4 linked regions of the Homo sapiens genome follow. The protein of the gene in region 1 purifies or fractionates together with the protein of each later gene. This does not show direct contact. Each region holds a gene or a part of one and is shown on either strand. Other genes may lie near its edges. The genes, in order: PRDX3, DHRS4, OPA1 and ATF2.

Region 1 (7,509 bases):
TAGTTAATTCATAATGTTATACCCACCTCTATCTAGTTCCAAAACATTTTCATCACCACAAAAGAAAATCCTGGACTTCCCTCTCCCTCTCCCTCTCCCTACTCTCCCTCTCCCCACGGTCTCCCTCTGATGCCGAGCCGAAGCTGGACGGTACTGCTGCCATCTCGGCTCACTGCAACCTCCCTGCCTGATTCTCCTGCCTCAGCCTGCCGAGTGCCTGCGATTGCAGGCGCGCCGCCACGCCTGACTGGTTTTCGTATTTTTTTGGTGGAGATGGGGTTTCGCTGTGTTGGCTGGGCTGGCCTCCAGCTCCTAACCGCGAGTGATCCGCCAGCCTCGGCCTCCGGAGGTGCCGGGATTGCAGACGGTGTCTGGTTCACTCAGTGCTCAATGGTGCCCAGGCTGGAGTGCAGTGGCGTGATCTCGGCTCGCTACAACCTCCACCTCCCAGCCGCCTGCCTTGGCCTCCCAAAGTGCCCAGAGTGCAGCCTCTGCCCGGCCGCCACCCCGTCTAGGAAGTGAGGAGCGTCTCTGCCTGGCCGCCCATCATCTGGGATGTGAGGAGCCCCTCTGCCTGGCTGCCCAGTCTGGAAAGTGAGGAGCGTCTCTGCCCGGCCGCCATCCCATCTAGGAAGTGAGGAGCGCCTCTTCCCGGCCGCCATCCCATCTAGGAAGTGAGGAGCGTCTCTGCCCGGCCGCCCATCGTCTGAGATGTGGGGAGTGCCTTTGCCCCACCGCCCCGTCTGGGATGTGAGGAGTGCCTCTGCCCGGTCGCGACCCCGTCTGGGAGGTGAGGAGCGTCTCTGCCCAGCCACCCCATCTGAGAAGGGAGGAGACCCTCCGCCTGGCAACCGCCCCGTCTGAGAAGTGAGGAGACCCTCTGCCCGGCAGCCGCCCCGTCTGAGAAGTGAGGAGCGTCTCCGCCCGGCAGCCGCCCTGTCCGGGAGGGAGGTGGGGGGTCAGCCCCCCACCCGGCCAGCCGCCCCGTCCGGGAGGTGAGGGGCGCCTCTGCCCAGCTGCCCCTACTGGGAAGTGAGGAGCCCCTCTGCCCGGCCAGCCGCTCCGTCCGGGAGGGAGGTGGGGGGTTCAGCCCCCCCGCCCGGCCAGCTGCCCCGTCCGGGAGGGAGGTGGGGGGTCAGCCCCCCGCCCGGCCAGCCGCCCCATCTGGGAGGTGAGGGGCGCCTCTGCCCGGCCGCCCCTACTGGGAAGTGAGGAGCCCCTCTGCCCGGCCAGCCGCCCCTTCCGGGAGGGAGGTGGGAGGGTCAGCCCCCCACCTGGCCAGTCGCCCAGTCCGGGAGGGAGGTGGGGGGGGGTCAGCCCCCCGCCCGGCCAGCCGCCCCGTCCGGGAGGGAGGTGGGGGGGGTCAGCCCCCCGCCCAGCCAGCCGCCTCGTCCGGGAGGTGAGGGGCGCCTCTGCCCGGCTGCCCCTACTGGGAAGTGAGGAGCCCCTCTGCCCGGCCACCACCCCGTCTGGGAGGTGTGCCCAACAGCTCATTGAGAACGGGCCACGATGACAATGGTGGTTTTGTGGAATAGAAAGCGGGGAAAGGTGGGGAAAAGATTGAGAAATCGGATGGTTGCCGTGTCTGTGTGGAAAGAAGTACACATGGGAGAATTTTCATTTTGTTCTGTACTAAGAAAGATTCTTCTGCCTTGGGATCCTGTTGATCTGTGACCTTACCCCCCAACCCTGTGCTCTCTGAAACATGTGCTGTGTCCACTCAGGGTTAAATGGATTAAGGGCGGTGCAAGATGTGCTTTGTTAAACAGATGCTTGAAGGCAGCATGCTCGTTAAGAGTCATCACCACTCCCTAATCTCAAGTACCCAGGGACACAAACACTGCAGAAGGCCTCAGGGTCCTCTGCCTAGGAAAACCAGAGACCTTTGTTTACTTGTTTATCTGCTGACCTTCCCTCCACTATTGTCCTATGACCCTGCCAAATCCCTCTCTGTGAGAAACACCCAAGAATGATCAATAAAAATAAAATTAAAAAAAAAAAAAAAAGAAAATCCTGTACCTACTAAATAGTTCCGGCTGGGCGCACTGGCTCACACCTGTAATCCCAGCGCTGTGGGAGGCCAAGGCAGGCAGATCACTTGAGGTCAAGAGTTCGAGATCAGCCTGGCCAACATGGCGAAACTCCGTCTCTACTAAAAAATACAAAAAAAAATTAGCTGGGCATGGTGGTCACACCTGTAGTCCCAGCTACTCGGGAGACTGAGGCAGGAGGATTGCTTGAATCTGGGAGGCAGAGGTTGCAGTGAGCTGAGGTTGCAGTGAGCTGAGATTGCATCACTGTACTCCATCCTGGGCAACAGAGGGAGACTCTGTCTCAAAAATAAATAAATAAAATAAAAAATAAATAGTCAGTCCCCATGCCAGCTTCTCCCAGTCCCTAACAATTGCTGATTTGCTTTCTGTCCCTTTGGAATTACCTATTTTAGATGTTTCATATAAAAGGAAACACACACTATTTGTTCTTTTGTGTCTGGCTTCTTTCACTTAGCTAGTGTTTTCAAAGTTCATCTGTGTTGTAGCATATATCAGTATTTCATTCCTTTTATGGATAAATAATATTCCATTGTGAACTACAGTATTTTTTTTTTTTTTTTTGAGACGGAGTTTCAATCTTGTTGCTGAGGCTGGAGTGCACTGGTTCAATTTCGGCTCACTGCAACCTCTGCCTCCCAGGTTAAAGTGATTCTCCTGCCTCAGCCTCCCAAGTGGCTGAGATTACAGGTATGCACCACCATGCCCAGCTAATTTTGCAATTTTTAGTAGAGAAAGGGTTTCACCATGTTGGTCAGGCTGGTCTTGAACTCCTTACCTCAGGTGATCCACTCACCTCAGCTTCCCAAAGTGCTGGGATTACAGATGTGAGCCACTGCGCCCGGCCTACAGTACGATTTTGAGCTCCAAAATGATTGTCTCCTTTTCAATCATCTGCTAAACACAGACATAATTAAAACCAATTAAACAAACACAAGGAAGGTGTGAGGTGAAATAGTCGAAACGTGTGTCCCCACACATCCAAGGCAGTCCTTTCCACATCTGGGGACTGGTACCCAGGGTGGCGCCTAGTGGTACCTGAGATGATTTTAGAAAATATACTGGGCTGGGTGTGGTGGCTCACGCCTGTAATCCCAGCACTTTGGGAGGCCAAGGTGGGAGGATCACCTGATGTCAGGAGTTCAAGACCAGCCTAGCCAATATGGTGAAACCCCATCTCTACTAAAAATACTAAAAAAATTAGCCGGGTTTAGTGGTGCACGCCTGTAATCCCAGCTACTCGAGAGGCTGAGCCAGAAGAATCGCTCGAACCAAGGAGGTAGAGGTTGCAGTGAGCCGAGATTGTGCCACTGCACTCTAGCCTGGACGACAGAGTGAGACTCTGTCTCAAAAAAGAAAAGGAAAAAAAAAAAAGAAAGCCAATTTAAAGAAAATAGTAAGTGATATTTGGTGATAAGAAGACTTGAGAAACGAAGTTGCTAATTGAATGACTAGTGATTGGAAAATACCAACTCAGACCGGGTGCAGTGGCTCATGCCTATCATCCCAGCACTTTGGGAGGCCGAGGTGGGCGGATCACTTGAGGTCAGGAGTTTGAGACCAGCCTGGCCAACATGGTGAAACCCCATCTCTACTTAAAATACAAAAACTTAACTGGGCATGGTGGCAGGCGGCTGTAATCCCAGCTGCTCAGGAATCCCAATTACTCATGAAGCTCAGGCAGGAGAATCGCTTGAACCCGGGAGGCAGAGGTTGCAGTGAGCCAAGATCATGCCACTGCACTCCAGCCTGGGCGACAGAGCAAGACCCAGTCTCAAAAAAAAAAAAAAAGAAAAGAAAAGAAAAGAGAAAAGAAAATACCAGCTCCAAGACTGCAATTTGTCACACTTACTGTAAGGCCACGGTGTGATTTTTATCTATGTTTGATGTGGTTGCTTCAAGTACTATGCTCACCACTGAACACTTGGCTTCATTAATAGACAAAAACCAAATTTTAAATTTGTCCCAGTTTTCCCAATTTTGGGAAGAGAGGCCAAATGTTAGACCACACACAATTCCAGCGGATTTCAGGCCAACAAAGCCTTGATGTGTCTAGCCCACTTAGCTTATTAACGGACTAAAACTGCATTTGTAATTAATTCCATTTCATACAGAAGCCGGAAGTCTCTACCTGAGGCTGAAATAAGAAAGGGATCCTGTCACAGAAATACTAGACACAGTAATCCACACAAGGTTAACAAAACAGTGGGAAATATGGAAACAAATACCTAATGCCCCGCCTGGATTCGTTCTTTTAAGGTTGGGGCGACAGTAGGAAAACCACGTGTCACTTGCCCAAGCATTCAGCCTTAAAGGGAATTTCTCCCTCAGGGTCTCCAGGAGGCGGGGAGGCGGTGGCTCCTCCGGCCCCGCCCCCCCACCAGCAGAGGGCCCGCTCACCACCCCGTAGGCCCCGCCCCTGCGTCTCTGCCCGCCCCGTGGCGCCCGAGTGCACTGAAGATGGCGGCTGCTGTAGGACGGTTGCTCCGAGCGTCGGTGAGTGGCTGTCGGCTGGGGACAGGCGTGGAGACACTGGTGGCTCCGGGAACGTGCTTCTCAGACAGGACCCCGCGCTTCTGGGCATGAGGGCCATTCGCCCTTCTTGGAGGGTTTCCGCGGGTAACGGACCCAGAGGCCTCCCTCCGGGAAGGTTCCATGCGCCTGCGCAGAACCGCCCTTCCCCACTCCATCCTCGCGGTCTCTTCCCCGAGTCCCTCCTCTTTCGGCGTCCCCGGTCCCCAGGCCCATCTCCACTTAAGGTCCTGGCCCTGATTCTGCCACCGACCCTGTGATCTTGGGCAAGCGCCTTCGCCTTTCTCAGACTGTGTACTTAAGATGGAAAGAATGATGCCTACATCAAGGCGTTGCTGTGAACAGCCCCTTAAATACTGGATAAAAACGCGCAAAGTGCTAAAAAACTCACAAAGGCTTTCCCTCCCAATCCCACTCCCGCGTGTTTCTGCTGCTGTTTCCTGCTTAACTGTGGGCAATGCGTCGTGCTCTTTTGGTACACGGCTTTCTCTGGTGGGGTTCAACACAGCCCCTTTCGTTCTCCTGAGTCATTTTGAACATTAAAGTTGAGCAAACCGGCAGAGTGCGGTGGCTCACGCCTGTAATCCTAGCACTTTGGGAGGCCGAGGCGGGCAGATCACTTGAGCCCAGGAGTTTGAGACCAGCCTGGACAATAATAGTGAGACCTTGTCTCTAAAAAAAAAAATAGCCGGGCATGGTGGTCAGTGCTCCTGGGGAGGCTAAGGTGGGAGGATCACTTGAGCCCAGGAGGTCGAGACTGCAGCGAGCCGAGATCGCGCCACTGCACTCTAGCCTGGGTAAAAGAGCGAGACTCTGTTTCAAAAAAAAAAAAAAAAAGTTGAGTAAACATGTCCCTTGAGCCTTTAACAGACTCCCAGAGGCTGAATTTGGCTCTTCTTGTTTACTTGTCGCTGGTGCTGGAGGGGCCTTGTTTTTCTAAGGAAAACCTTGAAATGGTAGAACATACTCAGCAGATAGTGCTGGGAAAAGCCTGCACAAGTCCCCTGGCTTCTGAACCCTGTGTTGCTTTAAGCGCATGGAGTTTCTGATTTTTTTTTTTTTTTTTTTTGAGACGGAGTTGTCGCCCAGGTTAGAGTGCAATGGCGCGATCTCGGCTCTGCAACCTCTGCCTCCCGGGTTCAAGCAATTCTCCTGCCTCAGCCTCCCAAGCAGCTGGAATTACAGGTGCCCGCCACCGCCGCCTGGCTAAGTTTTGTGTTTTTAGTAGAGATGGAGTTTCACCATCTTGGCCAGGCTGGTCTCGAACTCCTGACCTGGTGATCAACCCGTCTTGGCCTCCCAAAGTGCTGGGATTACAGGTGTGAGCAACCGCGCCCAGCCGGTCTTTGTGTTCTTATAGTTCCTCTCCACCTTCCAGTCTCCTAGGAGAAGGAAGCAGAAGGGAGTGTTAAGAACATGCAGATCCAATCCATGCTCTTAGAGTTTGGGGTTTGCTATTTGGTTCACAGGAACAGGGACAGCTGAAACCACCGTTGGCACGATGCCCTTTCAGCCTTCAGTCACCAGTCCAGGAAAACTTTCTAATAAAAAGTTTCTCTTTCCAGGTTGCCCGACATGTGAGTGCCATTCCTTGGGGCATTTCTGCCACTGCAGCCCTCAGGCCTGCTGCATGTGGAAGAACGAGCTTGACAAATTTATTGTGTTCTGGTTCCAGTCAAGCAAAATTATTCAGCACCAGTAAGTGTTATGTCATGTCTTGGCTGGAGCCAGGTAAAGGAAAAATGAACCATCGTCTCTGGACAGGGGCTCTGAACCCTGGCCAAACGTTAGAGTCACCTGGGAGCTTTCAGGAACACAGCACTGCCCCCGTCCCACCCCAGACAAGTTAGTCTGTGGGGTGAGACCAGGATGTGCCGGGTGATTCTAACGTGCAGCCAGGGTTGAGAATCACTGAGGCAAACTGCCCTTGTCACATTTCCATGTTGGTTGTCAGAGTTTCTAATCCACTGTGTTGAGGAGGGTGTTACTGGGAGCTCAGATGCCTTCTGAGTCTAGTGTGTCTGAAGAGCTGTGAGTGGTGGGCAGCCTGTGGGGGACCTGAGAGGGCAGCTGCTCTAAGATTCAAACCTGTGTAATGGCCCCAGCTGGCCACTTAGGAACCAGACCTGTCTAATGGTATCTGTAATCTGAGCGAAATTTAGCTGTTTCTTGAGATTTACACTCCCTTCTCTAGGATATGGGCTTTGCTAAGATCAGCCTCAGATAATGAGTGGTATTTGAAAATACCTTGTCTAGATTTGACTAGCCTTTGAAAAAGCCCGTATTTAATATGTAATGGTTTGTGGGGATATACTTTAGTAAAGCCTTTGTTTGTGGGCAAAATGTTCTAAGAGCTTTCGCAATTTTACTACCCTGGAGCTTCAAAATATTTCTAGTAGTGATGTGATACCACAGGCTTAAAACTTTACTCCACTGGTTTCGAATCCTCATCCCCAGCAGCGCCTCCTGTTTCTGTTCATGGCGGTGTCAGGCATTTTGACATTGGAACTACTCTGTCGCTCATTCCTGGGTAGAAGCAAGTCCTTTTCAGTTTTGACACATCTCTTGCATCCATTCCTTTCTGTTCTTTCTGCCCCATACCTCCCCTCAATACGTCTAAGATCACTGAAATCGAGGCTGGGCACAGTGGCTCACACCTGTAATCCCAGCACTTTGAGAGGCCAAGGCAGGCGAATTACTTGAGGTCAGGAGTTCAAGACCATCCTGGCCAACCTGGTGAAATCCCGTCTCTACTAAAAATACTTAAAAAAAATAAGCCGGGTGTGGTGGTGTGCTACTGGAATCCCAGCTACTTGGGAGGCTGAGGCAGGAGAATTGCTTGAACCTGGGAGGCGGAGGTTGCAGTGAGCCGAGACCATGCCACTACACTCCAGCCTAGGTGACAGAGCGAAACTCTGTCTCAAAA
Region 2 (7,863 bases), on another chromosome or scaffold:
TAGAATGGCAATCATTAAAATGTCAGGAAACAACAGATGCTGGAGAGGATGTGGAGAAATAGGAACGCTTTTATACTGTTGGTGGGAGTGTAAATTAGTTCAACCATTGTGGAAGACAGTGTGGCCATTCCACAAGGATCTAGAACTACAAATACCATTTGACCCAGCAATCCCATTACAGGGTATATATCCAAAGGATTATAAATCATTCTACTATAAAGACACATGCATATATATGTTTATTGCAGCACTGTTCACAATAGAAAAACCTTGGACCAACCCAAATGCCCATCAATGATAGACTGGAAAAAGAAAATGTGGCACATATACACCATGGAATATTATGCAGCCATAAAAAATGATGAGTTCATGTCCTTTGCAAAGACCTGGATGAAGCTGGAAACCGTCATTCTCAGCAAACTAATGAAAGAACAGAAAACCAAACACTGCACGTTCTCACTCATAAGTGGAAGTTGAACAATGAGAACACATGGACACAGGGAGGGCAATATCACACACCATGGCCTTTTCAGGGGGGTGGGGGGCTAGGGGAGGGATAGCATTAGGAGAAATACTTAATGTAGATGATGGGTTGATGGGTGCAGAAAACCACCATGGCACATGTACACTTGTGTAACAAACCTGCACATTCTGCAAGTGTATCTCAGAACTTAAAGTATAATTATTTAAAAAAAGAAATTAAAAAGTGGGGATTGGAGCATAGAAGAAAGAAAAGAAAAGAAATTTGAAGGACAGTATGTATAGTGTCATTTCAATTGTGGAAAAAATTTTTAAAAGAAAAATGCATGTAAATGTACAGGAAACTTCTGGAAGGATACACAAAGCCAAGAGCTATATGGGAAGAAGGTAAAAGAACCATAGGGAAGAGTTACCTTTTACTTTTCAAATAATTTTCTGTCCCTTTTTAAAATAATGTGTTATTTATATAATTTAATGAGTAGATGTGTTGATTTGAAAAACACACTGATCCTGAAAGTTTAAATTCCAGTTGAGAGAAAATTGATTTCTATGAAAACTATGGATTGCCCAACAATGCCAGAAAACTGAAGTGTAACTATGCAACACACACAGTGGTCAAGGTTGTCATCAGTCACTCTGATTTCACATAGAGAATTTAAAACACCTAATTGGGTGCAGTGGCTCACGCCTGCTATCCCAGCACTTTTGGAGGCCAAGGCAGGAAGATCACTAGGTCAAGGGATCGAGATCATCCTGGCCAACATGGTGACACCCCGTCTCTACTAAAAATACAAAAATTAGCTGGGTGAGGTGGTATGCACCTGTGGTCCCAGCTACTTGGGAGGCTGAGGCAGGAGAATCACTTGAACCCAGGAGGCAGAGGTTGCAGTGAGCTGAGATTGTGCCACTGCACTCCAGCCTGGCGACAGAGCAAAACTCTGTCACAAAGTAAAAAAAAAAAAAGAAGAAGAAGTTAAAATGCCACAGTCCTTGGTGGACTTAACAAAAGAAGATGAATGTGGGAATAAAGACAAAGACAAAAGAGTATTTTGGAAGAAGGGGTCAGGAGGCTCCTTGCTTCTAGTGAAGAAGGGCCCTGAGCTTCTATAGCCCTTTGTATTTATTGAGTAAAGGAGATAGGGAGAAGGGGGTAGTTGTCAGTCAGCTGCTTGGCTTAGTGCAGGCTTGCATGACTGCATTCTTTGAACAGTAGTCTCCAGATGTTCCTGTAGATAACCTCAAGGAGCACAGCACCAGGGAGTCATTGCCCTCAGCAAACCTTCTGGTAGCAGGCGCAGAAGTGAGTTTGCCCACATTCTGCATTCATGATAAACAGTTTGCTGTTAGATCATACAGCCTTCAGTGGAATGCTGAGTTGGTCACGACCCTCAGGCCTTTGGCTCCCTACATTAAAACACCCATTTCACCAGACTAAAAATATTCAATAAAATTTATAAAAAGCACTTAACGCTTGCCAGCATTTAGTAAGGAAGTGCTCAATAAATACTGTTAACACTCTTACTATTACTTTCTCTGCTTGGTAGTTGTCCTAACCCCACACCAGCCCTCCCACATTGCCTAATTCTGACTTGTGTCAGTGATGCAGGACTCGACTCAATCTAGGACAGCTATTGCAAAACGCAAGACTTAAATTCCACCCCAGGTGAAATCTCTTCTGGACCGCAGGCAGCCCTTGAAAAGGATGGGAGTAGTGCCCTCACTCATGAAGGCATTTGTCCCTCAAGATAGGCAGATGTTACCACCTCCATGTAAGAACAATCCCATTGCCTGTTACAGTTCCCATTTCAAAGAGATACTCCCACATATGCATGTATTTCCCTGAAAGATTTCCCGTTATTTATTTATTTATTTATTTATTTATTTATTTATTTATTTAGATGGAGTCTTTCATTCTGCTGCCCAGGCTGGAGTGCAATGGCATGATTTTGGCTCACTGCAACCTCTGCCTCCCACGTTCAAGCAATTCTCCTGCCACAGCCTCCTGAGTAGCTGGGATTACAGGCACATGCCACCAGGCCCGGCTGGTTTTTGTATTTTTAGTAGAGATGAGGTTTCACCATGTTGGCCAGGCTGATCTCGAACTTCTGACCACGCCCAGCTAATTTTCGTATTGTTAGTAAAGAGGATTACAGGTGTGAGCCACCATGCCCAGCCCAAGATTTCCTGTTCTTATCTCCAATAAGCGAGCTTGATGAGGAGTAGTGCTAGAGAGTCCCATACTTCTTGACTTCCTTCCATCCTTTTCTGCTCACAGGCCCCCTCCCTAATGTCCCCTGTGCTCTCCACAAAAGAAATAGTGCTAGAGGCCAAATAGCAACCCTGCCCACACAAGGAAGGGCCATGTAATGTTCACCAAGCACCCAAGCCACAATTCTCTCTTCCCAGAATCCTTTGCTCTTTGAAGTGTAGTCTTCCTCACCTTCCTGCCAACCTCAGCCCCTGAGTCCACCTGTCTACCTCTGAAGAGAAGGGAAAGAGAGATCAAACGCCCCCTGCAGGCCTGTCCCTTTGAACCAAGCCCTGAGAACCCCCGCAGCCGTCCTCCTGTGTACCCTCCCCCAGCCGCACACACAGATGGAGAGCCCTGGGAAGGGTTCCCACAGTGCGTTAGCTCCAAACAGTGCAAGAGGACAAGCAGTGTGGCGCTTCCAGCCTCTGTCAATAATTCATGAGGCTCAGACTGAGGAGCACCAGTCAGAGTCAGCCTTCCCTGGACATGGGGAAAATTATACTGAAGCTCTCCTGTCTCATCGGGATCTGCTGAGTAGCAAAGCAGAGTATTGCAGCTGTAACTTCTTGGCTGAGGAAAACACTAGAATTCCAGTGCAGGCCGTTCTATTACTTGCTCACCATACACCCCCTTTTGAATGTTGAAACCCTTTTTCAGCTGCTCAGCTTACCTGCACATATACTAAATGAATCTTGAGCAAACATGAATTCTATTCAAAAGTCATGCCTAGAACTGGATTTCACAAACCAGGATTCTTTCCCCTTTAATTGTAGGGACTGGCATAAGGCTGCCAAACTGGTGATTTCACCAATAACACATCTCTAAACCTACCCATCTGCTTTCATCATCTTTTCTAAAAGAAAACACTAACACACACACACACACACAAAAAGAAGCAAACGTATACTCCACAATAAAGGACTGTTAAATAAGCTTAGCTTTATGAAACTCACTGTAATTGTTTCCTTTTCTCATTTTGCCTTGAACTAGTGAAAACGCTGCCATGAACCAGCACTGCTTCTCAGTCTGGCTTTGGAGGCCAGTGGGTTAAACCAATTCAGATGCTTGCATTTGGGTCTGTTGGGGCCTTTCTACACTGTACCATAAGCCATCCAGATTTCTTCATTCTCCCGGAAACCCAGGAGGGAGATCATTTCAGCCCACTTGGCAGAAGTGCAGACTGAAGTCTTGGACACAGAATTTATAGCTGGCAAGGACTTTATTCATCATCCATACCCTCAGTAATTTACAGATGAAGAGTCTGGCCCAGGGCACCAATAATAATCACTACATGGTGGCAGTAACTACTATGTGCTTAGTAGCTTACAGTTCATAAAGAGATTTTGCATTCAACAAATATTTATTGAACTAAGATGGCGGCTAAGACCTGGGGACAGAGTGGTTAGGGAGAACTTGAGTGCCCCGAGTTCTTTGCATTTCCACCACTGCTTGAGGGACTGTCCAGCCTCCTCGCTACCACTTAGCCCCTGTAAAGGAGGAAGTCCCTTTGTCAACGGACATGAGAATGCTGTTTGGCCAATGACCATAGTCTGCCCTCCAGGGCCCGTGAAGATGGAAGAGACCTTGGGCAGAGTGAAGGGCAGTGCCAGGCCTGGCGCAGCTACTCCCTATCACGTCTCTCTCCCAGGCTCTTCCAGCCTCACCTGGTGGACTCCATGGCGACCACAGGCCTCACCTCCATGGGCAGTCTCAAAACATTTGCCCTCCTGTGGGCTGTCACACACATAGACCCAGACTTTCTTGGAGAAGGAATTCTGAAGAAGCAAAAGCAACCAACTCAAAACCCCCACTTCCCAGAGAAGAAAAGGTGGGCAAGCAGATGCAGAAAGGCAGCAGCCAAAGCCTGCGGGTTCCTGCAAGGGCCAGGGGAGGGGCGAGCCCTACAGGCAACTTGAACGGAGAGCTCACCCGCCAGCCCGGAAAGGCAAGCCCCAGTCAGGCGGAAGGTAGATGGTGGAGGGGCGCCGCGGCGGATGGAGGTGCCCAGGGCCACAGACCGCTCACAGCGGTACCGGGGCGGGGAGCAGGGCGGGCAGGGAATCGGCCCGCCCTTCGTCCTGCCCCTCGCCCTACTCTGTCACCGCCCCTGGGAAGAGTGGAACCCATACTTGCTGGTCTGATCCATGCACAAGGCGGGGCTGCTAGGCCTCTGTGCCCGGGCTTGGAATTCGGTGCGGATGGCCAGCTCCGGGATGACCCGCCGGGACCCGCTCGCAAATAAGGTGGCCCTGGTAACGGCCTCCACCGACGGGTGAGTGCTCCGGCCGGAGTTTCTGAGGCCCTGGCTGCCTGGAAACAGGCACTGGCCTCTCATCCTCGGCCTCCGGTGCCCCTGTCCTCAGACCTTACACGCTGCCAAAGTCTGGCCCTGGAAAAAAGGTAGCCACGTGGTCCGCCTGAAGCCACTCCGAATCCCCTAGCCCTGGACCCTCCCTTGCCAGCCCTCCTGTCCCTGCTACCTCTGGCACAACTGTGCCACCTCTGTGCAGCCCTATCGATCTAGTCTCCCCAGTGTTCTGGGCTGCCCCAGTCAACCAGCGCCACCTAGCGTCTGGGAAGACCAGAAACTGGAAATCCAAGGAAATCTGGATTTCAAAATACTATCCCACGGCCTCCAGCACTTTGAAAATGTACCAGACATTCTATTTGGGCACCGGAAAGTCCCCCGGAACCCCTCCCCCTTACCTAGATGGGACACCAGAGCCATATGTCGAGATTTTTGTTTAGGTCGGTACATCTGGGCCGACCTTGCCCAGCCTGTTTCTCACCCACCATTCTTGTCTATCCTGGTCCTCATTTCTACAGGACTTTGCTAGATGCCAGCTCTTCACAAAACTAAAATACAAATGTAGGTAAAATGCTAATAGCTGACAAATGCAAAATGTGTAACTCTTCCTCCCAAGGCAATATTTACATTTTTGACCGGAGACCATCTTTTCACATGCACCCCAAAAAATAACTAAGGATAGAATTTTGAGAATGATGTAGACGAGTAAGAAAGAAACCTGGGGGCAGGGCTGTTCTGAGTGAGACCCTCAAATCACGGAAGTGGCTGCTGCTGCAAACCCAGCTCATTTCTCACCTCTCAGTCCCAAGAGGGGATGAAGCCTGTCACCCATGGTGGGAACTGTAGAAAGTGATGTCAGTTCTTGGGAACTGAGGCTGTGGTCCAGGTCATAATAAAAACAAGTAAAGGAATGCCAAAAATGGCCATGCCATTAAGCCTGTTTTACACATAGTAGGCACACGTAGGGGTTATATAGAGAAAGAGCCAGAATTCAAACCCGGGCAGTCTTAACTTCAGAGCTCATACTGTCGACCTCTTCCCCTGCACAGGCCTTAGCAGTCTTTGTCTCTTTCTGCTCACAGGATCGGCTTCGCCATCGCCCGGCGTTTGGCCCAGGACGGGGCCCATGTGGTCGTCAGCAGCCGGAAGCAGCAGAATGTGGACCAGGCGGTGGCCACGCTGCAGGGGGAGGGGCTGAGCGTGACGGGCACCGTGTGCCATGTGGGGAAGGCGGAGGACCGGGAGCGGCTGGTGGCCACGGTGAGCTGCAGGGAAATGGGCACAGAGCCAGGAGGTGGAAAACGGAGCCAGCCTGAGCCTCCTTCCCTGCTTTCCTAGACAGCAGCACATTTTTACTGTGTGCCTTTCTATTATGTCCATATACTAACGTCAGAGAATCATCCCATCTCAGTCAGAGAATTTTAAAACATTCTAATGCTTCAACCCTGCATCATCCCTTGAGTACCCCAAAGAAACAGCTGGTACTGGTTCTGCAGTAATTTTCAATCTAATTGAACAGATGTGAAGGGTAAATACAATCACAAAATACATGTTCCCACCCATGAGTTAATAAACATTCCCCTCTTCTTCAGCTTATAGAGTCAAGTCCCTGGGAACCTCAGGAAGCAGCCCACCATGTTTCAGCCACTTACTATGTGCCATTTCCTGTGTTCAGAGCCTTACACAGGTTATCTCTAGACCTGACAACAACCCAAGCAAGGCAAGGACTATTCTCTCAGTCTGCAGACCCTGGCTCAGATAGCTGGAGCAACTTCCCAAGGTCCCACAGCCAGTAAGGAAAGACCCAGACCTCCCAGGCTCCCTTCCTTTATTGGCTGCCTGTGGACTACCGGGTACTGGACTTTAGTCTCAAAGAAAGTATATAAGTCGATGTCAGAATTAGTAGTGGACACCAGCCTTGCAGCTGCTGAAGCAAATATGAAGCATTCACAAAGGAAGCTCCTCTTCCCTTGAGGCTCACGGCATACACTTTATTTCCCAGAGTGGAAGGGAGAATCTACCCAAAAATGGAAAGTACAGGATTCTGCTAACAGATTGGAAGGTTGGCAGAAATAATTTGCATAATCTTAGAAGAGGAGGATCTTAAGCAATAGTAGACAGTAGTATGGTAGACAGAATAGGGTAATTCCATTTTTAAGGAACTGTCTGGCAAATGCTCAAATGTGCATTGGAAAGAGCCAAATATGAGTCCAAGAAAGTCACAAATGTGAGTCCAAAAAAGCTTGGCTTAGGCTGATGGACAGACCCCAAGATTGGGGCCTTGATCCTGATGGTGGAAGGAGCCGTTTGGGAGTCTGGATCAATTAGCACTAACCATATGACATGTAGCAATGTAATGTGAAAATCCTCCCGGAAAAACATCCTGTGGCCCCCACCAGGTTCACTTAACATGGCCTACAGGCCTGGCCCAGAGGTGGTACTTGAGCTAAACCTTAAGGAATGGATGGGAATGGACAGATGGAATAGTGATGAGGTTCCAGATAACTCTGCAAAATGAGCAGACAGCCAAGGAGGAACTGAAGGAAACAGAGGAGCACTGTCAGGCCACAGTGGAGAGCACAGGCTCAGGAGTACTGCTGGGGAAGGGGCTGCATTGGAAAGATAGAGGCCATGGGCCTCCATATCCTTTTTTTTTTTTTTTTTTTTTTGAGACAGAGTTTCATTCTTGTTGCCCAGGCTGAAGTGATATGGCACAATCTCAGCTCACTGCAACCTCCGCCTCCAGGTTCAAGCAATTCTCATGCCTCAGCCTCCCGAGCAGCTAGGATTACAGGCATCCACCACCACGTCCAGCTAATTTTTG
Region 3 (7,088 bases), on another chromosome or scaffold:
TCAAAACAAACAAACAAACAAACAAAAACCAAATATATATATATGTGTGTGTGTGTGTGTATATAATTTGTGTGTGTATATATATGTATTTATATCCTCGACTAGGGTTCATAGGAAGTGACTGTAAATGTTTGTTAATAAGGATTATAACATGCTTTTCTGAGGGCTGGGGAGAGTTTGATAATGATGATGGTGCAAACATGTATGACTTCAGCTAATTATTGGCTTCTCCAGGAAACCACAAAGAGTAGTGTTAAGGAACTTGGAGATCTCCCAAGAAGAACTTTGCAAAAGCTTTTATGTATAAATTTAAATATAAAACTTATGAAATCAATTTTAAACATTTCCATTTCCATTAACATCTCTCATTACCTTCCTTTCTGAAAATTTCTGATTCGTTGGATAATTCTGAAAAGGGTCCCTTTTCCTGCTAAGGTAAATATTTAGAGTTTTACCTGGTGAATTGCTCAATTCCCAGCTGAACTGGAAAATTTAGTTTAAAGTAGTAAAATTATTTCATGACTTCTGGATCAGAAAAATATTTTTAACATGTTTTTACAAGTAATTAATACACAAGTTCAGAGTATAAAAGGGTTTACAATAAATGTAAGCCTCCCTCCCACTCATGACCCACTAACTTCAAGTCCTTCCTTGACTCTGCCCTTCACTAGGGCTTATCAACTCAAATATTTTCGTGGGTTAGGCATGTAACATAAATGAGTAATGCAAGTATGTCTGTTGTATAATGTCATATTAAATTGTATTCATATAATTTATTCATATAATTTTACTTGCCTACTTGCATACTTGTGTTCTTTTGCCAAAAAAAAAAAAAAAAAAAGCTCTTTCTCATTGTTTTGGAAATGGCTGACCCTCTCAGTCCTTCATTTTCTCTCACTTTTCATATTGTAATCATCCAGCAGGTTCTTCCTGCTCACTGCACAGACAAAATCATTTCACTGAGACCAGGGCATCGCAGTAGAAAAAGAGTTTAACTGATTCAAGACCAGCCTATGCAGGAGAACTGGAGTTGTCACTCAAATCAATCTTCCTGAAGGCTCTGAGGTTAGAGGTTTTTATGGACAATTTAGTGGGCAAGGGGTAGGGAATGGATGCTGCTGATTGGTTGGGGATGAAATAATAGGAAAACATTCCTTGTGTGCTGAGTCCACCTCTGGGCGGGGCCACAGGATCACTTGAGTCATGAGTCATAAGTCTCGATGGGGTGAGTCTGAAATATACCGCAAAAAAGCAGTCTTAGATTCTATAGTAATGATGTTATCTATAGGAGCAATTGGGGAAGTCATAAGATTTGTGAGTTCTGGCCACATTGATTCCTGAGCAGTAAGGGACTATAGAAACCATACCTACGTCTTAGCACAGTTCAGGCCCCTCTCATGATCCTGTTCTCTTGGCCTTTCTTACAAAGGTGGTTTTTGGTTCCTGAGCAACGAGGGAGTTAGCTTTAGGAAGGGACTATTATAATCCTTTCTTTCAAGTTAAACTATAAACTACATTCCTCCCCAAAGTTCATTTGGCTTAAGTCCAGGAATGAGCAAGGACAGCTTGGAGGTCAGAAGCAAGATGGAGTCAACTATGTCAGGTTCCTCTTGTCATAATTTTGCCAAGGCAGTTTCAATATAAGTAGTGGTTGTTTTTCCTCTTAATTTTTACTAAGAAAAGTAGAAGCACAAGCTTCATGATAAACAGTAATTGATGTGTTCAATTTCAGAAAGATGAAGGAGTGTGAACTACCGGAGAGGACATGAGTGCCTGAAGGATAAAACTACTACTTGGCTCCTGGTTCCGAGACATTTTTTGTATATAAGAATTGAAGGTTGATGTTGTTAGGCATCCTGATATTTTTATGTGATTTTTTAAAATGTGAAATTTGTTGATTTTTATTTGGCAACAAATGTAGCATTTTTTTGCTTGTTTGTTTTTGAGACGGAGTCTCGATCTGTCGCTCAGGCTGGAGTGCAGTGGCACAATCTCAGCTCACTGCAACCTCTGCCTCCTGGGTTCAAGCAATTTTTCTGCCTCAGCCTCCGAGTAGCTGGCTAATTTTTTTATTTTTAGTAGAGACAGGGTTTCACCATATTGGCCAGGCTGGTCTCAAACTCCTGACCTCGTGATCTGCCTTCCTCGGCCTCCCAAAGTGCTGGGATTACAGGCATAAGCCGCCATGCCCAGCCCAAATGTAGTGTTATTTTTAAAACACTGCATAGGCCAACACTGTCTAAACCAAACAAAACAGGTCTGTGGGCTGAATTTGGTCCAATGGTTGCAGTTTATTATACAACAGTTTGCCCTTTTTTCATGGCAACACTATGTATCTATGGGAGATCATTCCTTATCAGGACATACAGACCTAAAGCATAGGTTTTCATGGCTAGTACGGATGTAATTTATGTGTCTAGTTCCTATACATGGACATTTATACTGATTCCAATCTTTTCCCATTTCATACAGTGCAGAAATAAACATCATCATGCATACATCTTTGCATACATGGGAATGATTCCACAGGATAAATGCCTAGAAGTAGAACTGCAAAACAAGGGCTTCATAAAACATATGATAACCATATATAAATGGTGATGGTGGTTAGTTTCTCCTTTTTTTATGGTTAAAGTCTTTTATCCCTAATTTTTCTTTTTTGTTGTTGTTGTTAAAGTCTCTTGGTTTCTCTTATTTTATTTTCTAAAATAACAAGGAAGTAACGATTACAAAGACACTTTTTGTACAACCCTACAATCCCAGGAAGATCTACAGTTTGCACAGGTTGGTACAGCAAATTGCTCTCTGGACCTGCCATTGAAACAGTCACCACAATAAATAAAGAAAATTCTAAGAGTCCTGCATTTGGGAAGTTTACTATCAATGGCTAGGTCTACTCTTGGTGGTATTGTGAGTGCATGGGTCCAGACTTATGATTCTGACAATTAAGGGAAAAGGAATTGTCTTTATGCTCTGTGTATTTGTGTATGTGTGTGGCATGGGTGGGGGGCGGGTAGTGGGGAGGAGGTGAAAGGTCCCTGAAGTAAAGAGGATGCACAGGACCCTTTTATTTTAGTCCCTAAAAATTGGCTTCATAACCGTTCACAGGCCACATCCCTTTTACGGGCCCTGGTTTCCTTACAAAACATAAAAGGTTTGTGTTGGAAGGGGAAAGGAGTATTTAAAGTGATGGAGGAGAGGAGCTCAAGATGGCTGAGATCTGGGCCTGTCCAACATTGAGAAATTTGGGAGGGGAGCCATCAAAGAAGCCTGGGAGCAGCAGTTCCAGGGAAAAAGGAGAATGTGATGGCCAGAGAGCCAAAAGAAAAAGTAGTTGAAGGAGTGCTCAGCACTAGGCATCTGAACTGAATGCTGTGGCAGGCTCACTGGCCACAAACAATAGGGAGCTGGTGGAGGCCTTGACGAGGACCATTTCAACAAACTGGTGGGCTTAAAATCCGGAAGAAACAGTTGAACAAATCATTTTGACGCCTTTTATAAACCACACAAGCTTATTCCAAACCCGTTACTGGCCTAACTGATTTAAGTCCCTTTCCCATCTGATCCTCAGAGATTCTAAGGGACTTAGCCTATCCATGACTCTTCGTCCTGCTTCTCACCTCCCATGATTGCCCTAACGATGTGAAAGTGCTTTCAAACAAAGATGCCCAAGAAAGAAGGTAGGCAAATGTGCAAGCATTAGTTTGTAGTACGCTATTACTGTATTTCACCTTGCACTCTCTAGTTTCCTTCGTGCTCCCTCAATATCCAACTCTTAATAAATTCATGGCTCCCGGTGAGCATTCATCAATTCTCATTCCACGCCTTTAGCCCTTCCCGTTCCCGCCCAACTCTCGCTCCCTCCCCTGGCCAAATCTCTAACCTGCAAGGCTAATTCCGAATTCCAAATCGGAAGCAAGAGGGCGGGGCCCCGTGAGAGGCGATGGATTGCTCCAGTCCGTTCCCGACGCACTGTGCGCATGCGCTGGTCCTCCGCGGACCGTTCGTGCTGCCCGCCTAGAAAGGGTGAAGTGGTTGTTTCCGTGACGGACTGAGTACGGGTGCCTGTCAGGCTCTTGCGGAAGTCCATGCGCCATTGGGAGGGCCTCGGCCGCGGCTCTGTGCCCTTGCTGCTGAGGGCCACTTCCTGGGTCATTCCTGGACCGGGAGCCGGGCTGGGGCTCACACGGGGGCTCCCGCGTGGCCGTCTCGGCGCCTGCGTGACCTCCCCGCCGGCGGGATGTGGCGACTACGTCGGGCCGCTGTGGCCTGGTAAGTGCAGGCTCTAATCTGGCCCCGTTAATTCTGGGGCCTCTTGAGAGTGGGGCTGTCTTATCTCTATCTCCAAAAATGTGCAGGTGACTCTCAGGCCAGGCCGACGGCAGTTGGAGAATTCCCAGATGTTCTTGAGGACCCAGAATGACAGGAGCCCTGGCTGGGCTTACGTTCGGAGCCGGCTTCAATACTGGCCCTTTTCTCTGGCCCTACCCAACCCGAAAATTCTGGACGCCTCTCAATCTTGGCCCGTCTCTATTGTCCTTTTGTCTCTGCCCTTTACACCCTTGTGTCTTCAGTGTTCTGTCTGTCTCTGGTTGCCTCTTTTGCCTTTTTTCTGTCCTCTCCCTGCCAGGTTTGGCTCTGTCCATGAGTCACCTCTCTCCACATTTCTCCTAACTCTCGGTGTCTTCTTTTTCTTCCATTTCCACGCCATGTGTACATTGCATCTTCAGGTACCTGGGCTCTTCTATCGGGGAAAGGGGCGTCCGTCTCTTTCCCTAGCCCGCTGATAGAAGTCAGAACTAGAGCAATGACGCACACGGTGTCAGAGACGGTGATTCGAGATGCCCTTTCAATAGCAGCTTTTTTCTGTGTTTCGGGAGGGAGACTTACTTTTTGATGCAAGGTCGTGAACGTGGCACCACCTTTCTAATCTCAATCATTGTTGCCCTGGGGTGGTTTAATTCTAAATAGAAAATCATAGAAATCTTTTCATTTCTGTGCGTTACTATATGCATTGTAATGAGATTAAATTGGATTTTATAGGAAATTTTGTTCTAGTATCATTAGATACCTTCAAGCTTAGCTCATTGTTGCAGGCATTTGATAGGAAGTAAGATGCATCAAGCAAAATTGGAAAAACGTGGTTTTCCTGAATTAACTTCTAAGCAGTTGTTTTGAATTTTTTCCAGACCTTTTTAAGTGGTATAGATAATTTATCGTGTTTATAAGGAATGGAATGCATTCGTTAGTTTGTTTTTGTTTTGTTTTGAGACGGAGTCTTGCTCTGTCGTCCAGGCTGGAGTGCAGTAGCGCTATCTCGGCTCACTGCAACCTCCGCCTCCCAGGTTCAAGCAATTCTCCTGTCTCCGCCTCCGGAGTAGCTGGAATTACAGGCACGCGCCAGCACGCCTAGCTAATTTTTGTATTTTTAGTAGAGAGGGGGTTTCACCATTTTGGCCAGGCTGGTCTCGAACTCCTGACCTCATGTGATCCACCCTCCTCGACTTCCCAAAGTGCTGGGATTACAACCGTGAGCCACCGCGCCCGGCCCAATTTGTTTTATATAGGTTAACTGGAGTCCAAAATACAGAACTAGATGAGATAACAATAGTTAACAGTGTTAGTCAGTTAGAATTATTGCATAGGTATTTTTAATCTCATGGAATTTTAGTCTTTGAGTAAGTTCACAGCCCTTGGTATTAAAGTAAGTTATTTACAACCCTTGCATTTCTACTTCTCAATATTTAGTGAGGAAACATATCTGATTTTCTTTAAATAAAAAGAGAAAAGACTGCAGAAGATAGCATTCTCTGTTGGAGCAATTAAGATGTATAAGAAGAACTACAAAGACGGAGTTTTAAAACAAACTGATTTATAAGTGGTATTTATTTAATTGGCTGTCATTGGGCTAAATTATTTCTAAAGTTACCATGGATGCCATTGAGTCATGGCTTAAAAATGTCTCCTGGTGATGGCACAGTTTAGCTACCTAAAGAAGTAGAGATGTGGGAAGCCAGAAGCCCCAAGCTCTGCAGTTTTTCTTTTGCTATAGTTCCTTTGCATGTTGTGAAAGAATACAGTTAAATTCCTGCTCCCTAACAGATGAGAGCATAAGCATTTCTTTGGGCATACATATGTAAATACATGCTCATGGACATGTGAAAAGATCAATACTAACATTTGGGTGCAATAAATAATTGTGTAAAATTATTTTTAAAAGAATTACATATTAGGAAATGATATATTGATTAAAAGTGATAGTCAATGAACAAGAGAGTAGATTTCTGGGGGAAACCTATTTTGCATCATACTTGATTTTTAGTTTTGACTGAATATTGAAGTCTATATTCAAAATTCTTTTCCTTTAGAACTGTAAAGGCATTGCTGCATTTTCTTCTAATGTAATTGTTTATTGCTGCTGAGAATTCTTATGACAATCTGATTTTTTCATCTTCATGATTATCTTGTTTTTCCCTTCATGGAATCTGTTAGGGTCTTGACTTTATCCTTTATCCTAAATTTCTCAAGGCTTGGACCAGGTGTGGGTTTGGTTTTGTTTTCTTTTGCTACTCATTTGACTTGGCACACTCAGTGGGCCTTTCCCTTTATCTTTCTTCATTTCTGAGACGTTTTTCTCTCTTATTTTTTATTATCTTCCTTTCATTTTTCCTGTCCTTTTTCTTTCTAGACATCTCTTAGGAGGATAGTGGTCCTCTTAGATTGATATGTTATGTCCGTGATTTCCAAAGTAAGATTTGTACTCGTCGTCTGTTAAAAGGAAAAGCATACATATACCCTATGTATATATGCACACTTTTTTATTTTTAAATTATATATGTATCTGTACTAATTATTTACATTGTAAGTCAACCCTAACATAATCTTAAAGGATAAGATACAAAACATACTGCATCTAGAAGCTTCAGTACTTTCTTCCTGAATCCCAGTAGATCCTTTTGTTCATCCCACGGGATGCATTCCGCCCCCATCCTCCCACTCCCTTTGGATACCACATTACCACAGCTCTGCATCACTTAACTTTCCTCTTATGTTTTTCACCTTTTTTTTTTTTTTTTTTTTGCATTTTA
Region 4 (7,022 bases), on another chromosome or scaffold:
GTGGAGCTTTTCTTGGTTTCTAGGAAACTGGAAACTTGCTTATTTGAATTTCTAGGATGATTTTTTTCATTTTTAGGTGAATGGAATCAGTGAAAATTCATCCTGACTCCCTTGATGTTTCTTTTTAAATAATCAGAAGAGCATGCAACATATATAAAATAAAAATACTTTCAACAGGTCACCAATAATATATAAGAAGTCCCAGGGAAATGGAAACAATTTTGAAATATGCTATCCAGCTGTGGCATTATCTTAAATTTTTATTCAAGTTACAGCTTTTTAATAAATGCTAAAATATAAAAGCTGCCCTGTGCTGATTAGACATATTTAATCAGCATATTTTCTTTGTTTTTAATGTTCTGCCAGTGATGTCCAATTTTATACTTTAATCCTTGCTTGTTTTAAATAGTAAAAAATATGTTTAGTCTGTGGTAAGGTACATAAGTTGTTTCTTCTCCAGAGTGAAGTCACCCTGCTGAGAAATGAAGTGGCACAGCTGAAACAGCTTCTTCTGGCTCATAAAGATTGCCCTGTAACCGCCATGCAGAAGAAATCTGGCTATCATAGTGAGTAATGTTCCATTACCTATAGCCTTAGGCTACGTCAGTGAAATACCGTCAGAGTGAACTGAGCTGCTACTTTAAAAATGGAGACTGTGCTTCTAATATTCAAGATTAAATATCAGAATTTCTGTAAGGTTATTATAGAATGCAGTAGAGAGGTATAATTTTTTAGAATCTAGAGAGTTTGAGTTTTCCTGTTTCTAGCTTTTTTCCTAAGCGTTACTATAGATCAACAAAATGGATTAGCTAATAATTTAAAATATACTGTAAGTACTTGATGATATTTTGTTCATCTTCTCAGGATAACACTTTGTCTTAGATTGACAGGGTGAAACACTACTTTTTTCCCAGCCTCCGTTCATTAATGATGATATTTTTCTTTTTAAAATCAGCTGACTGCCTTTAACAATATATGATATCCCTTTAAGGTATCAGATCCTATTGTTCTTTCTTAGATAATGTCAGCATTGTGTAACGTTTTTATTGTTGTAAACCTTTATATTGAGATATCTAGTTAGTTTATAAAAATGTTAAAACGGGAACAGTAGTTAAATTATCTGCTTGTAAATTTCCTGCTAAATGTTTTCCCAAAGAATGAGATTCTTTTGTTTTCAGCATTTTAAAGGTTAATTGTGCCTTTTCCTTTTTGTAATGTCCTTCTTTTTTGATAAGATGCACAGTGTTGGAACCAGCTGTTACTCTTGAATAAATGGCCAATTTTGTCCATAGTATACAAATTTGTAACAAACAACAGAGTTGGGAATGCATTAGGCAACATTTATAATATATAACCCACAGTTTTAGTCTTTATGATTTAGTGATATTTCAGGATATTAGTAAATGTGAAGATTGTTTCAACCATATGTATCCACTTCATTTTAATTTGCCAGTGTCAGTAATTCAAAAGAAAGAAACATTTTGTATTGGATGCAAACAGTTCCTCAGGTGCTCACGATAAAACTTAATGGCCACCATCTTTACTTGTAGTCATTATAAGCAGTTTCATCAGAATGGGCAATATTTTTTAATTTAAAAGATTCCGTAGATTTAGCTACTCTCAATTGCCATATATATTTAGAACGCTGATTTTTGTCAGTTTTGAGCATATAAATCTTGCTTATTTGATATCTAGTAATTTTGACAGGATGGTGAAACACATTGGAGTAAATTGGAACCATATAGAAATATGTTTGGGATTTATATTAACAATGATTGCTTCAGGGATGAGGCCATTATGGTTCCCATCTGACTTAACAACATAATTTCCTATAGAAGCTACTAGTTCAGCATTTATGCATACGTGATTTTCTTAACAAGAAATCTCTCTTGGATTTTCATAGTTTAAAAGGAAATAAATTGTTTTATAAAATTAAAAGGAAATTAACTGTTCTCTTAAATTGTATCCAATTCAGAATTACCTGTAATTTTTAAATCTTTGATAATTTATTAGATAATCCCAACAGTTTTGACTCTATTATCCAGGCAATGTATGCTCAGCAGATGCAAACCAGTTATTCATTTGACAATTGATTTACAAGATATCTTAAGTGTATAGATGCGTAGGTTTATATACTGTATACTTAAATGACTGAAAATCTAGATTAATACATTTTTAGTACATAGAGTACTAAGTTATGAGAATATAAGAAATGAATAGGATATGTTTGTTGTTTGGAAATAATCCTATCTTTATTCCTGTCTAGTCATGTAGATAATCAAATTAACTGAAATATAGTTCTACCATAAAATTAATTCTCTTCAGATCTTGGGAGATAATTGGATTTTGTAGAAATTTTCAGGTAATTTATATTTTCAAGTTTGAAATCTTTGAAATAAGTCTGACTTCTCTGTTGTGTAGTAGTAAAAATAGATACAGAAATTGACTAAGTGAATACCTTTGAAAAATTTACACTCTTCATTATGTTGTAGCACACAGCTCTTGCTAACAGTGGTGAGTTGTAATACTAGCTAAATCTTTAAAAACATTTGGGAATCAAAACTAAGATTTAGTAGAAATTAAGGAATGTTACAAAATCTTTCAAGTAAAGGTGGAAGTACTAAGTCACAGCCATAGGGTCTGTCCCGCCCAGTTTTAGCACTGAAAGTCCTACTTCCTAAGAAGACCCCTCAGTCGTGGGAAAACCATGACAGTTAGTCACCCCAACAGTTAAGTAATATAAAACCTGAATGAAAATACTAAGAGTACATTTTAAATATTTGGGTTCCATGAAAAATAAAGCACAAAAGTGATCTTATTGCCATGAATTCACATTCTTTAGATCTGGGCATAATTAAAGTTGTATTATAATTGTCTCTATAATTATAAATGGGAAGAAAAGCTTCTTGGGGACTAATCAACCACAAATACTTTTATTACTGAAAATATGTATAGGCCAGGCACTGTGGCTCATCCCTTGTAAGCCCAACACTTTGGGAGGCCAAGGCGGGAAGATTGTTTGAACCCATGAGTTCAAGACCAGTCTGGGTGAAATAGCGGGACCCCATCTCTACAAAAAATAAAGTTTAAAAAAGCCAGGCATTTTGGCACACACCTATAGTCCCAGCTACTTGGGAGGCTGAGGCAAGAGGATCACTTGAGCCCAAGAGTTCAAGGCTGCAGTGAGCTGTGATCGTGCCATAGCACTCCAGCCTGGGCGACAGGGAGACCCTATCTCAAATAAGGAAAAGAAACTTGTGGACATAGGTAGAGAACTTTCAAGATTACTGAATTGCCAAACAGCTGGTTTCTTTTAGCTTAGGTAGAGCTGGAAGTGGCTCTTTGAGTACAGCATGGTTTTCTGTATCTCTCTAGTGCTTGTGATTACACCAGTCATTTTCTCCCCTCACCTAGAACTGGACATAGGTGCAAATATATCACATTGTAAAGGTATTTGATGTGTATGTAAGGTTTATAATTACATAATTGTGAGTACCTGATTCTTTGTACTGCTTAAAGATTTGCTTTACCTAATTCTGAAAGTCTGTAGGTAAGCATTCATCCCTTATAATTTACTGTTTCATTTTAAGTTGTTGACTCCAGTATGTATTTACGTTTCCTTATACCACTCATCACAGATCAGCCTCTTTATTTTTAAAAGCTGGTGTGTCCCTTGAACTCAACATTCAGGGAAACGTCAGCCTGTTGTTCTTTTAAAGAATAGTGGTGAAGTTAGAATGGTGATCATTAAAAAGTCAGGAAACAACAGGTGCTGAAGAGGATGTGGAGAAATAGGAACACTTTTACACTGTTGGTGGGACTGTAAACTAGTTCAACCATTGTGGAAGTCAGTGTGGCGATTCCTCAGAGATCTTGAACTAGAAATACGATTTGACCCAGCCATCCCATTACTGGGTATATACCCAAAGGATTATAAATCATGCTGCTATAAAGGCACATGCAAATGTATGTTTATTGCAGCACTATTCACAATAGCAAACACTTGGAACCAACCCAAATGTCCAACAATGATAGACTGGATTAAGAAAATGTGGCACATATACATCATGGAATACTATGCAGCCATAAAAAATGATGAGTTCATGTCCTTTGTAGGGACATGGATGAAGCTGGAAACCATCATTCTCAGCAAACTATTGCAAGGACAAAAAACCAAACACTGCATGTTCTCACTCATAGGTAGGAATTGAACAATAAGAACACATGGACATAGGAAGGGGAACATCACACACCGGGGCCTGTTGTGGGGTGGGGGGAGGGGGGAGGGATAGCATTGGGAGATATACCTAATGTTGGATGACGAGTTAATGGGTGCAGCACACCAACATGGCATATGTATACGTATGTAACTAACCTGCACGTTGTGCACATGTACCCTAAAACTTAAAGTATAATTTTTAAAAAGTGATAAAAATAAAAAAATTTTAAAAATCACATATAAATACTTAAAAAAAAAAAAGAATAGTGGTGAAACAAAACAAATAGAGCTTTTTAGTATTCCCTCCAGTTAAACTGTCATTGCCAGTATTTTGTTTTCTATATACATGTAATGATTATGTAATGATTATATTGGCTATTTTAATAACTGAATTATAAATATTTTATAACATTCATTACTGCTTGATCAGAAAAGTAGGGGGGTGAAGGAGAGGGGCACTAGTTGAGAAACGACCTGTTGGGTGCTATGTTCACTATTTTGGTGATAGGTTCAATAGAAGCCCAAACCCCAGGATTGCACAATATACCCATGTAACATACCTGCATATGTACCATCTGAATCTATAATTTTTTTTAAGTATTCATTCTGTTTTATATAATTTTTAAAGGATTACTACTTCTGGTGGTTGGTGGTGGTGGTGGTGTTGTTTTATTGTACCTTGAGGTCAAGTATCTAGGGGTATGGTTTTGATTTATAGCATGTTATAGAGAAGATGGGGTTCCATCTCATTAATGTATTTTAAAACCTGCTTTTCAAAAATGCATGGATTTGAGGCAGATGTTGAAAAATTCTGTAAAAACTATATTTCAGAAAATGCACAAAATTAATAATTTTATTTTAGCTAAAGTTGACACTACCAGGTATCCCCCTCTCCATCTTCTACATTGCAAATCATAGGCTAAGTCCTGCTTCATAAGATGTCCACAATTTTTTTCACTAATTGACTTTCAGAATGGGCATCTGGCCATTAGTAAGCAGGCCAATACACATTCTTAGATTTGATTTTAGAAGCCTATTTACTGTCACTCCTAAACACTGAATAAAAAAAGTTTTAATGCCAAGTGAAAAAAGCAAGGTGCAAAAGAATACATCCAGTGTGATACTGTTTTTAAAATGTTTCAAAATAAACAAAGCTGAACTATATTGTTTAGGGATACATGCCTATGTGGTAAAACTGCAGAGAAAAAACGAGAATGGTTAAAGAAATGTCAGAGTGGTGATTACCTTTGGTGAGGACAGGAACCTCCAGGAAGCAGAAGTGTTAATGGCAATGTTCTCTCTTAAGTTGGCGGCTCGGTTCCCAGGTGTTCATGTTATCATTGTTCCTCATAACTTACATATACTATAAATATTTGTGTGTTATCTATATCAAATTTTTACTAAATGAAATTACTGGATTCTGTTCTATTAAAATAAGGATGTAAGAGACTTGTTCAGGTCTAAATATTTGCAGATTTATTTTCGTAAATATTTAGAATGCCCTTTCCTTAATATCTTTTCAGATGCAATGTTTAGAGTTTTATATGGATTTTTACTTGAATCCCAATTTATTCATGCAACTATAACAGCTGGTGGCATTTAGATTCTAAATACTGCTTGTTCTCCTATGTATGCATCATTAGAATCAGGTGTTATAATCATCCATGGCTGCAATAGATGGAAAATCAGTCAGAATAAATACAGTTCTGGAGAATGCAGAGGGAATAATTTGAAGATATAATTTGTATGTAAGAATTCATTTTGTTTATGCATGTGGTTATACATTTTTATCTTGTAATAAGAATGACATGTAGGCCAACCAGACTGAGTTTGTTAAATGTGATACTTAATGTTTGATTGTATCTGTAAGAGACTATCTTCCAAACTCTCCCTCATTTTCTTTCTTTAACACTATTTAGCAAATATTTCTTCAGCTCTATTCCATAAGGCAGTGGGCACCCAGATGTTTCCATATGCATGGTTGTGCCTTCTTTTGACCTATTGCAGGTAAAATTGCCTACTTCATGACCTATATCAATTGCTGTAATACCAACTTGTCTAATCAGTTTTGTAAGATACTTTCTAACTTTTTACTCTGTGTATTGCCTCAGCATACTGGTGCATTCTTACCGATTTTAGGAAAATGAATAATTTTTCTTTTTTCCACCCAGCTGCTGATAAAGATGATAGTTCAGAAGACATTTCAGTGCCGAGTAGTCCACATACAGAAGCTATACAGCATAGTTCGGTCAGCACATCCAATGGAGTCAGTTCAACCTCCAAGGCAGAAGCTGTAGCCACTTCAGTCCTCACCCAGATGGCGGACCAGAGTACAGAGCCTGCTCTTTCACAGATCGTTATGGCTCCTTCCTCCCAGTCACAGCCCTCAGGAAGTTGATTAAAAACCTGCAGTACAACAGTTTTAGATACTCATTAGTGACTTCAAAGGGAAATCAAGGAAAGACCAGTTTCCATTTATGCGAAATCTGTGGTTGTAAATTTTTTTTTTTTACTTGAAATTAAATTTGGCTCTAAAGTTGGTGTAGCAGCAGTTGATCAGACTGAAAAACGGTTTTTAGTCTCTGGAAAAAGACTGATTTTGCTTTTTTTATAAATATTATTAGATTTATTAATTTTTCTGTGCTCAATGTGTAAATTGTATTATAATTCATTGTGATTTATTTCACTTTTAATTTGCTGGTGTTTTAATAAATGGGGGTGTTACTGAATCTTTCTTCCCACTTCCATTTCTTTTGACCACCCCTTAACCCTCAACTGTGACGGTAGTAGTATTATCATTTAT

Evidence for each region.
Region 2: the proteins of PRDX3 (region 1) and DHRS4 purify together in Homo sapiens (affinity purification with mass spectrometry; 3 studies listed by BioGRID and IntAct, with this or other methods). This does not show direct contact.
Region 3: the proteins of PRDX3 (region 1) and OPA1 purify together in Homo sapiens (affinity purification with mass spectrometry; 4 studies listed by BioGRID and IntAct, with this or other methods). This does not show direct contact.
Region 4: the proteins of PRDX3 (region 1) and ATF2 purify together in Homo sapiens (co-immunoprecipitation; 2 studies listed by IntAct). This does not show direct contact.

Annotation. Positions count from the first base shown.
Region 1 is NC_000010.11:119,175,793-119,183,301, reverse strand, and holds the start of PRDX3 (thioredoxin-dependent peroxide reductase, mitochondrial isoform a precursor), read left to right. Parts: upstream 1-4,489; 5' UTR 4,490-4,511; coding exon 4,512-4,547; intron 4,548-6,148; coding exon 6,149-6,281; intron 6,282-7,509. UniProt on the Homo sapiens protein: Thiol-specific peroxidase that catalyzes the reduction of hydrogen peroxide and organic hydroperoxides to water and alcohols, respectively. Plays a role in cell protection against oxidative stress by detoxifying peroxides.
Region 2 is NC_000014.9:23,948,914-23,956,776, forward strand, and holds the start of DHRS4 (dehydrogenase/reductase SDR family member 4), read left to right. Parts: upstream 1-4,856; 5' UTR 4,857-4,875; coding exon 4,876-5,003; exon of another isoform or gene 5,004-5,284; intron 5,285-5,834; exon of another isoform or gene 5,835-6,121; coding exon 6,122-6,299; intron 6,300-7,863. UniProt on the Homo sapiens protein: NADPH-dependent oxidoreductase which catalyzes the reduction of a variety of compounds bearing carbonyl groups including ketosteroids, alpha-dicarbonyl compounds, aldehydes, aromatic ketones and quinones.
Region 3 is NC_000003.12:193,589,138-193,596,225, forward strand, and holds the start of OPA1 (dynamin-like GTPase OPA1, mitochondrial), read left to right. Parts: upstream 1-4,070; 5' UTR 4,071-4,240; coding exon 4,241-4,272; intron 4,273-7,088. UniProt on the Homo sapiens protein: Dynamin-related GTPase that is essential for normal mitochondrial morphology by mediating fusion of the mitochondrial inner membranes, regulating cristae morphology and maintaining respiratory chain function.
Region 4 is NC_000002.12:175,074,204-175,081,225, reverse strand, and holds part of ATF2 (cyclic AMP-dependent transcription factor ATF-2), read left to right. Parts: intron 1-460; coding exon 461-566; intron 567-6,138; exon of another isoform or gene 6,139-6,226; intron 6,227-6,358; coding exon of another isoform or gene 6,359-6,366; exon of another isoform or gene 6,367-6,390; coding exon 6,391-6,617; 3' UTR 6,618-7,022. UniProt on the Homo sapiens protein: Transcriptional activator which regulates the transcription of various genes, including those involved in anti-apoptosis, cell growth, and DNA damage response.